2 separate regions of the Homo sapiens genome follow, and region 2 is linked to region 1. Evidence: fine-mapped expression QTL. Tissue or cell type: esophagus muscle. Region 1 holds a variant in brackets; the other region holds the start of a gene. All regions are shown on one strand. Distances are from middle to middle.

The links. PIP is the estimated chance that this variant, and not a neighbour inherited with it, causes the effect.
Region 2: MCC starts here. The variant in region 1 is fine-mapped to the expression of MCC in esophagus muscle (GTEx, PIP 0.94).

What each region holds. Positions count from the first base shown.
Region 1 is chr5:113,049,268-113,051,767 of GRCh38, reverse strand. It overlaps MCC (MCC regulator of Wnt signaling pathway), which reads left to right. Exons shown (of 19, transcript NM_001085377.2): 16 at 2,469-2,500. Among named protein-coding and RNA genes, the nearest start is that of DCP2, 74 kb to the right of the region's middle. The variant T/C (reference allele first, on the strand shown) is at 1,248.
Region 2 is chr5:113,487,429-113,489,928 of GRCh38, reverse strand. MCC (MCC regulator of Wnt signaling pathway) reads left to right here and starts at 1,476. Exons shown (of 19, transcript NM_001085377.2): 1 at 1,476-1,684. The coding sequence starts at 1,515. RefSeq lists an enhancer at 1,283-1,577.

The sequences.
Region 1 (2,500 bases):
CCATTCTTCTTTTTGTTGTTGTTTGTTTGTTTGTTTGTTGTTTTGAAACAGGGTCTCACTGTGTTACCCAGGCTGGAGTGCAGTGACACAGTCATGGCTCACTATAGCCTCGCCCTTGGGCTGGAAGTGATCCTCCTGCCTCAGCCTCCCGAGTAGCCGGGACTACAGGAATGCACTGCCCTACCCAGCTGACTTTTTAAGTTTATTTTTTTGTAGAAACAGGGTCTCACTTTGTTGCCCAGGCCAGTCTCAAACTCCTGGGCTCAAGTCATCCACCCAGGTCAACCTCCCAAAGTGCTGGGATTACAGATGTGAGGCACCAGGCCTGGCCTTCTCTTCCTTTTTGAACATCTTATCCCTTCATTATGACTCCTGTATCACTTTGTTTTAAATCTTTATTTTCTAGTTTTGCACATTGTTATTTCTGCTTCTTGTAAATGCTGACTCTTACTTTTTGCATCCGCTCATTCTTCGTCAGTGCTGATTCATTCTCATTTCCTCGGTGGTGGGGGTAGGGGGAGAGAATGCAAGCACCAGCTCATCCTCTGTGGAAACTGTCTTCCGTGGGGCCCTGAGGATCCTGGGTTGCAGATGTCCCTACAGAGTGGTTCTATGTTTAGATCTGTTGGGACTCATCAGTTTCTGAGGTTTAGGACTAGTTGTTATTAAGTTCTTGGCTCTGGATTCCTGTACCACACCTACACATGACACAAGCTTGAGGTTTAATTCCTGGAAAGAGATTTTTCTTTCTTTTCCCACACAGAGCCTGAGAGATGACAAGTTTACTTGTCACATCTCCAGAAAGGAAGTTTCCTAGTGTCTTATGGGCAGCCTGATGAGAATCCTGCTCCCGTAGGGGTCTGAGCTGTGGCTCTCTGCCTCAGAGGCCACGGCCCTGGCCTTGGGTAATGTTAAGCCCCCGGGTGGAGGGCCTGAGGACAGTCTGACGCCTTGCTGGCCAGCACCTGCCCTCCTTGCCGTTCTCTCTGGCAGAGTTCCCTCTTCATTTCTGGCACCCATAGGTTTCTCTTTCCCTCTTTCAAGCCTGCACTTATATGTTTGTTCTGGAAGCGACCATCACATTAGCTCAGTATGCAGTGTTGCCAGAACCTTCAGAATCCTGCTTCCAATGGCAAAAGATCCGAAGGCTCTGGGCGTGGCACACCTTTCATTCTGGCTTTTATGTCTGATATTTAGGGTAAAGAAGGTTGGCATGTTCTGAGTAGTTTACTGAGCATATTGACTAA[T/C]GTCCCTTTCGAGGGGTGTCCTCTACCCATTTCCCCACATTTGAGAGTGAAAACATCTACCCCCTAGTCCAACTTACCCAGGAGAGTGCACCAGGCCTGTGGTTTATTACCTCAGAAGGGTGACTTCGGGGGTTGTGAGAATCTGAACTAACCTCAGGTGAGTCCATCTCACGGTGGGCTGGGAAGGCTGGACCTGGTGGCCATGGGCTGGTGGAGTTACTCTCCAGCAGAAGTGCGGGGACAAGAGTCATGCGTGGGCTCACCTTGAAAGGGAGGGAGGCAGTATAGCTCTGAACCAGACAGCTTGGCTGCAATCTGTGGCTCCACAGCTTACCCAGTAGCCATAAGCAGGGGGATTTCCTTCTGTGTGCCTCAGTTTCCCATCTGTCAATGGAGATAGTTGCAATACCTAACCCAGGTTGGGAAGATGAAATGAGCCACGTCATGTGAACACTTAGCACAGTGCCACGTGCTCAGTAAAGGCTACTGGCTGTCATTGTTACTGGCTCCTGGTCCCAGGATGGCACTGTCCTATTTTGGATTCACTTCGTATTCTCCACTCATCGCTCTCATTTGAGTTCTTAGGATACTTTTAGAAGTTGTCTGATGAGCAGTCACCTGTGAAGGATGCTGTTTCTATTGATTTCATTTGGGCCCTGAGAAGTAGGCAAGAGCTGGAGGTTGATGCTGCTGCAGGCATTCGCCGCATGCCTGGCCCAGCTACAGGGCAACAGAGGTGCCGTGGGTGTGATTAAACATGTGGTTGGTGCCATGGAAACCAAAATGGGAATTGGAAGGGGCTTGGCCAGAAGAGGCCTTCCATGGATAGGTGACTTTACAGCCTCTGGCAGGTGCAGCTCAGCCTCTGCAGACCAGAGAATGGGTTTCCATCAAGGCCCATGTGCCTGAGTGGGGGCTCTATTTGTTAGAAAGGTTTTCCCTATATTGAACCACAATCTTGCCTGTAACTTCTACCCTTCTGTCTCAGGTCTAGTCCATAGACTGACAAAGTGCATGGCCTTGTCCATACGTCATTCCTTTAGAAGTGTGGTGACAGGTGCCACGTCTCCTCCCACTCATCCTACTGCCAACTTCAAAGTGAGAACTCTACCATGGGCCTGTGGGTCATAGCCGGGGACCCCCCACCCACCCACTTGGCAGCAGCCAGGCCTGCTCTCAGATAGGGCATGCCTCATGTGCTCTGTGCTCCTTTGTCTGTAGGAGGAGATGGCCGAGTTGAAGGCCCAGCTCTA
Region 2 (2,500 bases), 440 kb before region 1:
AGAGCTAGCATCATCTCTCACTCATGTCTGGCACCTAGTCTGGGAAGATTCTAAGATCCAGGGCTAGAACAGCTGTAGCTCTTTGGTCATCTCCTTTTTTCTTTACATGGTCTTTCTGCATGGTTTCTCCAGCTTCAGGGTAGCCAAACTTCTTTTCAGGCAGCTCAAGGCTTCAAAGGTAAGTGTCCCAAGGGAGAGAGCCAAGTGCAATCTGCATTGCCTTTTCTAACCTAGTCTCAGAAGTCAAGGCAGTCACAAGTCCAATCCAGGTTTAGGGGAAGCAACAGACTCCACCTCTTGATGAGGGGTGCACCAAAGAATCTGTGGACATATTTTAAAACCACCAGAGAACTTCACACGCCTCTCTGGCAGAAAATCCAGGACAGAATAATGAGTCATTCACGAAACCACAAATTGCTTCACTGTGGTTTCCCTTTGGCTATGGGGGAATAGTGCAGTGTTTAAAGGCTCCTGCTCTGGAGTTAGGCTGCCCGGGCTTGCCTCTGCCCTAACACTTACTAAACCTGGAACCTTGAGCAGGTCTTGGTACCTCAGTTTTCTTACCTGTAAATTGGGAACAATGAGAGCTAACAGTTGTTGAGCACTTACTAGGTGTCAGACATTGTCCTAACTGCATTATGTCTGCTCTCCTTTTATATGTAAGATAACTCTATGAGGTACTTATCTATTAATACTTCCTAAGTCGTAGGATTGATAATAAAAGAGGCATCTTCCAGGTCTGTAGTGTGGATCAAATGAGACCATCTATTATGTTCGCTCTTGGCATTATTAAAGCTGTTGGGGGAAATTCTAGTGATGCCTGGCCAGTAGAGTGAGCCGTTTCCAGAAATTGACCCAACGTACACAATGCCACACAGCGTGCAGACTCTTCCCAGTACAGAGTGGGAGCCAAGATGAGGGCTGCGAGGGCCAGGTTTCTTGACAGGTGTCAAAATTTCATAAAAAGGCCAGTCATTCCGGTTCTCATTGGTGGCTATGGGTACAGAACCCGGAACAATCCTGGAGAGTGGGATTACAAGCACCGTTTTGAGTTTGCAGAAGGAGAGTGTTTATATAGCTTCTCTGGAAAAGGAAGCCATGACTCCGGGCGGTCGGAGAAGGTCTGCCGGGAGTACACCTGCCCTCTGCCTGAAGCGTCCCCAAGTGTCCCGGGCCCGCGTCGTTGCCGGATGCACAATGCTGACACCCTTCCCGGGGGCTTCCAGTGTATTCTGCCTCCTCTTGTGTTCCCGTTGCCACCCTTAGCTCCCTGACTCTTCCAGCCACCTTCCCCTCCTCCCTCTTCCCTGAGGTGCCTCCTCGGGCGATTCCAGAGCGCCCATCTTCCCAGTCCGGGCAAAACCCGGAGAGGTGGAATCCCTCGCCCGGAGCGCCCCGGCGGCCACTGGGCATGCTCCGTTGTCAGGCAAGTTCGGGGCTGCAGGCAGCTTGCGCGCCGCGCGGATTCCAGCTGCGGTCGCGCGTACTCCTCCTCCCAAGTAGGGAGCGGGCGCATGATGGCGGCCGCGGCGGCAGCGGCTGCGGGGAGCTCCAGCAGCGGCGGCGGCGGCGGCGGCAGCGGCAGCAGCAGCAGCAGCAGCGACACGTCCAGCACCGGCGAGGAGGAGAGGATGCGGCGCCTCTTCCAGACGTGCGACGGCGACGGGGACGGATACATCAGCAGGTACGCGGGGAGGTACGAGGAAACCGACAGGAGCGAGATCAGTCCCTCCGCGCGCCCTTGACCCCTGCTCTGCCCCCTCGCCCCAACTTGCGGCAAGTTGCTCAGAAGCTCGCGGGAAAAGTTGGCCGCGACTCCGAGAGCGCGTAGCCGGCTCGGCCACGAAGGCCGAGGGGACTGCTCTGTTCGCCTTGCGGGGGTGCCAGTTGGTCCAACTTTTCCCAGCGCTGTCTTTGTCTAGGCGTTGGGAGACATCTCCTTAGGATGCGCACTCTTCCGGGGGCTTGGAGTGTTCTTCCCTGTGGGAAAAGGAGTTCTGGCCGCTTGTCCCAGGTAGGAGGGGCTGCCCCACAGCCTCGGGGTCCTGGGCATCAAGATGCCGCAGCACGGGGCAGCGATCTGCCCGGCGGCTTGGTGGACACCCCAGGGCCGCACCGGGAGGAGATGAGCTAAGCGACAGCCTCGGACAGGGAAATAACCTGTGAAGAAACTTTCTTGTGCCGCAGAACCCATGAATTCCAAACTTCAGAGCCCAAAGAATGGGTATCGTTTGCCACCCAGTATTGATTTAAACGCAGTAGCCTGAGAGGAACGAAGCGCTCAGGAGCAAACTAGGGCTAGACCCGACTCCTACCCGGCTCTGTGCGCTGACCAGGTGAGCTTCGGCGTGGCTCCGGGCGCCTCCGCGCCTCCACTCACAAACAAACTTTGGGGTGTTTGCTTCGGATCCCCCGCACTTCCTACAGAGGCGGTATTTAAGCTTCCTGCCTCCCGGCTTGGCCAAATAATTACTTCTGCCCAAATTTGTGTCACTTAGAC